2 linked regions of the Homo sapiens genome follow. The protein of the gene in region 2 interacts with the protein of the main gene of each other region in a pairwise test. Each region holds a gene or a part of one and is shown on either strand. Other genes may lie near its edges.

What was found. The genes of interacting proteins can lie anywhere in the genome.
Region 1: the proteins of CHD7 (region 2) and SMARCC2 interact in binary tests that used the Homo sapiens proteins (3 or more experiments, as listed by UniProt).

What each region holds. Positions count from the first base shown.
Region 1 is NC_000012.12:56,172,433-56,176,140, forward strand, and holds part of SMARCC2 (SWI/SNF complex subunit SMARCC2), read right to left. Parts: intron 2,333-3,708; coding exon 2,219-2,332; intron 1,418-2,218; coding exon 1,264-1,417; intron 598-1,263; coding exon 505-597; intron 273-504; coding exon 153-272; intron 59-152; coding exon 1-58. UniProt on the Homo sapiens protein: Involved in transcriptional activation and repression of select genes by chromatin remodeling (alteration of DNA-nucleosome topology).
Region 2 is NC_000008.11:60,677,197-60,681,577, reverse strand, and holds the start of CHD7 (chromodomain-helicase-DNA-binding protein 7), read right to left. Parts: upstream 2,839-4,381; 5' UTR 2,496-2,838; intron 2,084-2,495; exon of another isoform or gene 1,787-2,083; intron 1,698-1,786; exon of another isoform or gene 1,340-1,697; intron 1-1,339. UniProt on the Homo sapiens protein: ATP-dependent chromatin-remodeling factor, slides nucleosomes along DNA; nucleosome sliding requires ATP. Probable transcription regulator. May be involved in the in 45S precursor rRNA production.

The DNA.
Region 1 (3,708 bases), on a different chromosome or scaffold from region 2:
GGAGAAGCAGGGTTTCCTGTTCTGTCCACTCACGAGTGGCACTGGCTGCAGCCTTGCTCTGCAGGGGAAACACAGGCAGGTGAGAAGAAAGGAGCCTGTGACCTCTGAGGAGCGAACATTCTCTACCCCTAGAGTCGGCCCGCACCTCCTACCTTGGAGGGAACATTCTTTTTTGTGTACATGTCTGTGCGCAGCCCAAAGTTTTGCATGTCTGTTGGTTTCTCTTTGCCTTTGTCAGGAAAGTTGAGCATTTGTTGGGAAGCAGAGGTCTGCTATTTGTGGAGGGAAAGAAACAGGTGAGTACAAGTGACCACCGGGAGCCAGGGGCTGACAGAGAGAAAAAACAGACAGAAGGAGCTTCTTTCCCAAAGCCAGGGACACCCCTGGGTGGGACTTCCTCCCTTACTGCTGTAGTTCCTCTGCTCTCATGTCTCTTCTTCCCGGGCAGGGGCCCCCCAATAAAGGGGAAAATGAGCAGCCCAGCAGGGTCTGCACCCCACCTACCAGCTCTGGCTTGCCCTTAGCCGTCTCTGGCACCAGGTCATCCAGCTCTTTGCCCTTTCGCCCAGCCTTGGTATCAGCATCAACCTGGCGGCCCTGGGGGACAGAGCTTGGCGTCATGGAGGCTGGGCAGGAAATGACCAGGCCAAGGCCCTGGAGGCCTCAAGACCATATGCTGGGCGGCCCACAAGCTCTGGGGGCACTCATGCCACTGTTCCATGTTCCCTTCATGATTAATAAGACATGTCGTTGGCATGATATCCATACATATTCACATTATCTTTATAGGTTCTCTTAGGAGCTGGACAATTAGGTTCTAATCCTAGATTTGGTACTCTGTGACCTTGGGCAAGCCACATAACCTTCTTCCTAATTTTTGTAATGGATGAAGTGGAAATGGAAAAAAAAATGAAGATGATAATTATGAGGCAAAAATGAAAAAATGTGGCAAAGATGACAAAGTTTAAAAATTTCATGCAAGTTAATTTTAAGCCATTTTTCTCTATTGACTCCCCTACATTAGCCTGTCTACTCCTTGAGTAAAAGGATAATCTCTTCTCCCTCAGCAATTACAGCCTTAGGTACAAAGGCTGAGAGAGGATGCTAAACACATGGGGCTGATTCCCGTGACCCTTTGCATCCCATGGAAAAGGAAGAAGCCTCAAAACACTCCTGAACCATTACCCTAAAAACCAGAAAAAGAAAAGTTCAAAGAAGCCCAATCTTCCCAACCCGCCCCATCCCCATAGCACCTCACCCTACCTGAGGTGTCTTGGGCTGCAGAGGCACCAGCCCTGATGGTGTGTCAGCCAAGACATGGAAGTGAGAGGTAGGCGGAGGCCCCATTGGGGTTGGTCGACTCTCAGCATCCACCTGGTAGTTAATAAGACCCCACTGTTCTAGGAAGGCATGGACCCTGTGCAGAGAGAGGCAGAGACAGGGTCACACGGATAGCCAGAAAGGTGCACGAGGAAGAGGAAAAGTGGGGGGTAGAAGGGGCATAAACCCCCTCCCCACCCAACCCCGGCCTTTTCCTCTGTTCATTGTACTCCTTAAGAAATCTCACCTACTCCAGTTGTTCATTTATCACCTAAATGCCAGTGACACCCAAGTCTACATCTTCAGCCTGGGCCAATCTCTATATCTACCTACCTACCGAACATTTCTTCCTGAATAGCTAGTAAAACTGAACCAGTTTCTTTCTTTTTTTCCCTAAGAGAGACTGAAGTGCAGTGGTGTGATCACCGCTCACTGCAGCCTCCACCTCCAGGGCTCAGGGGATCCTCCCACCTCAGCCTCCTGAGTCACTAAGACCACAGGCACGTGCCACCATGCCTAGCTAATTTTTTTGCATTTTCTCTAGAGATGGGGTTTTGCCATTTTGTCCAGGCTGGTCTCGAACTTCTGGGCTCCAGCAATCCTCCCACCTTGGTCTCCCAAAATGTTTGGATTATAGGCATGAGCCACCACACCTGGCCTGAACCAGTATCTTTCAATTACAGACATGCTCCTTCTTTGTCCTATATTCTACACTTCAGAGAATGCCATTGCTAATCCCTCAAGTCATTCATTCCCCAAACCTGTACTTCACCTTTCTCTAGAGGTGCTTTTTTCTGTCTGCTCCTCTGTGTTCCTTGCTGGCATCTCTACTGTTGCCAAAACACATCCATAGGCAGGCATCCTCATGTACCCCCTTCCCCTCAGCCACAAGACCCACCTCATGATGGCACAGACATCACCCGCTAGGTTTCGGCGGCAGGCGGTAGAGGTAAGATACTCTTGGGGGTTCAGTCGGTAAGTGTCAATCATAAAGTTTCGATAGGCCAGGTAGCTTAGAAGAAAGAGAGAGAGAAACAAGAAGAAGAAAAATAAATGTTTGTTAAAGGGCTAAAGGAAAAAATGGTAAGAGAGCTAATGACTTCTCCTGCATGATAAAGATGGAAAAAAGTAGATTATTTGACTCTACATGCTGAGTGCCTGCTATGTGCTAGATGAAAGGGTTTCAAATATGTCTTACTTTTCCTTGATGGGGTTTTCTTTAAATGAATTATCTCCTTGGCTATACTTAGGGATATTTCATACAATTTTTTTTTTTGAGATGGAGTTTCCCTCTTGTTGCCCAGGCTGGAATGCAATGGCATGATCTTGGCTCATGGCAACTTCCGCCTCCTGGGTTCAAGAGATTCTCCTGCCTCAGCCTCCTCAGTAGCTCTGATTACAGGCATGTGCCACCACGGCCGGCTAATTTTGTATTTTTAGTAGAGACAGGGTTTCTCCATGTTGGTCAGGCTGGTCTCAAACTCCTGACCTCAGGTGAGCCTCCTGCCTCAGCCTCCCAAAGTGCTGGGATTACAGGCATGAGCCACTGCACCTAGCCATTTTATACAATTTTTAAACAAGGAATTAGAAGTTAAGAAAATACTCATTTCCAAACTCAGATGTTAAAAGGAAGTCCTTATTCATGCATATAGCTAGTCAGCATACCACGGTAAAAAACATATGTTTTGAAGTTGAAAAGATCTAAGTTCAAATCCCAGTTCTACCATGAGGACCTTGGCAATTTACTTCGAATTTTTAAACCTCAGTTTCCTCATTTGTAAAATGGAATGTCTGTTGAGAGGTCTATAAAGTACTAGTATAGTGCCTGGCGCATTGTAGGGGCTCAAAAAAATGGCAGCTATCATGTGGTACAGTGTAAAGTTTCAGATCATGGGCCAGATTAAAGGATTCAGATCCTGGTTTTATTTACTAGCTCTGTGACTTTATGCAGGTGACTTGACTCCTCTATACCCTATCTGTCAACTGAAGATGATATCTACCTCTAAGGTTGACGTAAAGATTAAATTACTCAATGTAGGTTGGACATTTAGTATAGTGCCTGGGAGATACTAAGCTCTCAATAGATGCAGGCAATTATCATCATTTACTATTTTTTTTTTTCTGAGATGGAGTTTCACTCTTGTTGCCCAGGCTGGAGTACAATGATGAGATCTTGGCTCACTGCAACCTCCACCTCCCGGGCTCAAGTGATTCTCCTGCCTCAGCCTCCCAAGTAGCTGGGATTACAGGTGCGTGCCTCCACACCCAGCTAATTTTTGTATTTTTAGTAGAGACGGGGTTTCACCATGTTGGCCTGGCTGGTCTCGAACTCCTGACCTCGTGATCTGCCCGCCTGGGCCTCCCAAAGTGCTGGAATTACAGGCGTGA
Region 2 (4,381 bases):
TTATTTTACTATAACTTTTTTCTACAAGACAGATTTTTCAGGGAAAATAAACTTTTCCTGAGCAAACTGGAAGACATAAAATGTCTCCTACTTATCACCTAGAAAGGCAAACCAAGTCCTACTCCATGCCCCAAGCATCTAGCTTTCAGCCTCTTTATTATCATTGTCAATGAATGGGCCTCAGTCAAATGAAAGCTGCCATTTTAGGGTAAAGACTGGAGGGCTTCTGTTGTGCAACAGCAAGACAAAAACACTGCGCGACAGATGTACTCTGGGGGCTGGGAGAAGGATTCAACTTCGTAAAATCACTGCTCAAGTTATTTCTGAAATAGGAATTACCTTGTACTTAGACATTACTGCAATCTAAATATAATTATAACTGGGATAAATCAGGTAGCCATGCTGCTAAGGTCACAGTCACTAAGATATTTTTTGTCATCGTCAGACAAGATCAGTGAAGAAATAAAGACACGTATTTTGTTTCCTCTTCGATTACTACGTATACTGAGTACTCCCTCCCTTACCGAGAGAGAACTGGGGTGAAATAACACTTAACCCCTTAGAAAGGTATCGCCCACTGCAAAGACGGCTTAAATTAAAATTTTTAGAAAATAAAAAATCAGGGCCTCACAAAATCCTTTAAAAATAAATTAAGACATGTAATGTATTCCAGAAATTAAGCCCCCAAAAGGGACACTTTTTAAGATAAGTTATTTAAATCGATTGCTAGATAATATACAATGGGAAACTAAAAAGTATACTTAGCAAGTGGAGCGCTGGATAGTGTATCTAATTCTAGCAATTCAAAAGGAAACTCTCTCCATGTGGGTTGCTACTTTTCTTTTGTCCATTGTCTGTTCAGAAGAGGGGGAAAAAAACTAGTTTAAACCAAGGCGTGAGCAGTCTCTAAAAGTGACCTCCAGGAAAAGAGTCCGACCCATAGCAGGAGCACTCTCCGCGCCGCTCGCTTCACGGGGGCGCTCACAAAGCGGGCGGCCGGCCGGGAGTTTGGGGTGCGCTCCCACGGCTCCGGGCTCCTCGAGGCAGAGCCATCCGGAGAAAGGCGGCTCGGTAATGATGGCTGCTCGGGGCCGGCGGCTCCTTCCCCAGAGCCTCCCGACCAGCGCCCCCACCCCCGCCCGGGAGCCGCCGCCGCCGCCGCCCCCGCCCCCCCCCCCCGCGACCTCGACAGCCCCGCGCCGCCGCGCCCGCCCCGCACCGCAGCCCAGCCGGTGCCCGCGCCCCCGCCCGAGCCCCGCGCCCCCAGCGAGCCCAATCCCCGGTGCGAACCAAACAAACAACGCGTCCCCCACCGCCCTCCTTTCCTCTCCCCGCTGACCGCTTGGCCTCCAGCCACCTCGGCCGTTCACGCTCCAAGCCGCGGCTCTCTGCGAGGGCAGAGCGCACCCGGGTCACCTCGGGGGCCACCTGGTGACCACCCCCCACCGGCGCTGACCCCCGGCGGGTTGGGGGGCGGGGGAGCCGAGTTGCGTTGGAAGGTTAAAGTCGCTATTATGCAGCTGCCGCCGCCGGCGGCCCGGCCAGCTCGACAAGGTGGGGTCCCCTCCTCGCCGCGCCTCCCGGCGCTCGCCCCGGCCCCGCTCCCTTTCTTCTCCTCCTAGCGCACTTGGGAGCCGCCGGGGAGCCCCAGGAGCCCCCAACTCCGGGCTCGCAACTCCGCGCCCGCGACCGGCACTGGCTGAGCTCGGGACGCCTCCCGCGCCGCGTGTTCGCGCTGCCCCCGCCCCACGCGGCGCCCCGCGCACTTTCCCCGCCGCCGACCCACCTCGCTCGGTGGCGGTCCCCGCGCGGGCTGGCGCCGCCGCGCCGGGAGGAACGCACTTTGTTCGCGCCGGTGCGGCCGCAGCTCCCGGCGAGCGCGGCGTGGTCGGTCCGGAGCGGGGGGCGGGGGCGGGAGGCGGGGGTCGCCGCCGTCCCCGAGCCGCCGCCGCCGCTGCTCAGCCGCCCCGCGCCCGCGCGCCCATCGCCCGCTCGCACTTGAGTTGGAGCCCAACTTTTCCTCCTTCCTTTTTCTCTCGAATGGAGCCGGCAACTCGTGCTCGGCGCCGGCGGGAGGAAACGCGCTCGCGCTCCCCCGCGCGCAGACACGCTCCCTCCTGTCCCCCGTACCCCCCCCCCACGCCGGCAGCACAACAAAAAGCCATTTACATGCGAGGAAGTGACCCTCGGCCGCACCGCGCGCCCCCGCCGCCGCCGGCCCGGCGGACGCAGGCAAAAGTTGGGGCGCCGGGCGGCGCTCGGGGCGCGGGTTCGGGCCCCGCGGGCGGCGACGCCGGCGACACTACGCGGGCGGCGCTGCGCTCCTGCGCTGGCCCCGGCCCCCTCCCGCCCTCGCCCCTCGCCCCTCGCCCCGCACACGCCCAACTCCTCGCTCCCAACTCCTAGCGCGGCCCCGGCCCCGGCCCGGAGCGATTTCCTGCCGCCGCCGCCGCCGCCGCCCCTCCCGGGGGCGCCGGGCGAACTCTCGCGCTCACCGGGTCGGTCGGGCTCCTCCGCTGCCTAGTGCCGAGGGGAAAACAAAACGCAGAGCGGGCTCCGGAGTTGGCTCGGCAGCTGCGGCCAGGGGGCTGAATCCACGGGCACGGAGTTGGCCGGGGGCGAACGGGTCTCTGGTGAGTTTCAGGGTGTCCGGGTCCCCGGGCCGCCTCCTCCGCGGCGCTCCTTTGTGTAATTTCACTCGATTCAAGTTTAATCCGATAGTTCCCGAGCACGAGCGCGTCCGCACCACCACGACTCAACCCCCGCGCCGCCGCCGCCGCCGCCGCTGCCGCCGCCGCCGCCGCCGCCGCCGCGGCCCCAGCACGCCAGCGCCTGCGCGCGTCCGGCACGCCGCGCGCACCCGAAGCCGCGGGGCCGCGCGCGCCCGCCGCCAGCTCCCTCCGGGCCGCGCCGCGCCCGCGCCCGCGCCCGCGCGCCGCCACCTGACGTCAGGCGCGCCTGGCATAATTTATGCAAGAATTCGGCCGGGGTGGCGGAGGCCGAGGGAGAGGCCGAGAGAAAAGGGGCGGCGCGGAGCTGCTGGGCCGCGGGCCGCGGGCCGCAAGGGCGGGCCGGGCGCCACTTCCCGTCCCCTGGCGGGCGCCGGCGCTTCAGGCGGGTCTCCCCGCCGGCCGGTGCGCTGCTGCCGCGGAGTCTTCCTTGCCCGGCTGCACGGAGCGCTCGGCCGCTGCGCCCGGGCGCGGACTGGAGGGGCTGCTGCCACGTCTCCCGCGCGGCACCTTCCCGGAGCCGGGTGCGCCGCCCCGGGGCAGGAAGCGGGGCTCCGGGAGGGCTGCGACCCTCCTGGCTGCCGCGAAGGGTTTCCGACGCTGCGCGGCCGGCGGCGGCCGGGGGTGACTGGCAGTCTCTGCAGTAATTATCCTTCAACTTGAAATTATTTTCCCACATGAAATTATTCGGAAGGGACATGTTCCATTCCAGATGGGTTCGTGCCTGCTTCTCCACATCGCTTTTCCCACCTCTTCGTGGATAGGACACCGGATCCACTACTTAATCAAAAAGTTTAACTAGATGGCATTGATTTTGTCGAATTTGTTACCATACCAAAAAAGAGAGAGAAGGCAGAGAGCTCAATGATTATGAAACAAAGAAATAGGATGTATGCCCATTATTAAACGTGTCGGGACTAGAATGTTTTACTCATTCTTTGGCCAAAATGGCACTTGTATCTGATTGCATAGTCTTAAAAATCCGAGCCTCTTATTCCATTTCTCTTCCCGGTACAAAATGAATGTTAAACCTGAAGAAAAAAAACTTTTTTTTACTAATTTTTATTTTAGGAAATAGATCTACAAACATGGATTAAGCCTCTTCTATCTGCAAAATACGGAGCAATTATAATGTGTTTAAACCATCAATTGTAAACTTTAAGATAATTTTATTAGGTTAAAGATTGCACTTATTTTAAAATCAGGAAAGGAACTCATATCAACCAAAGATTGCCCTATGGCAGGTACAGACTGACTGGTTATTACTGGACTCCAAAATAAACTGAGAAAATAGCAAAACTATGTAAAATGTACTAATCTCACTCACTGATGGTTACACTACCTGTAGTGCTAAGCCTGTAATCACAATATTGTTATTTGGACAAAAGATTAATCAAAACTATCTCATTAAGTAACTACTGCAACTATTCAATAAGTTTGATTATCCTAGACTTAATCACTAAGACATTGATTTTCTGATTTTAGTAATAATTCTATAAATATATCACATTATATTGTGGTTTGTTAAATGCACTGCTTTTAGCTTGCTTTCATCATGTATTTGAGTTTTGTTCTAAAAGAAATAAATGTTTTAATGTTTAAGGAGCTTACAGATCATCAAAAAGAACATAGAAGACAGTACAGAAAGAATT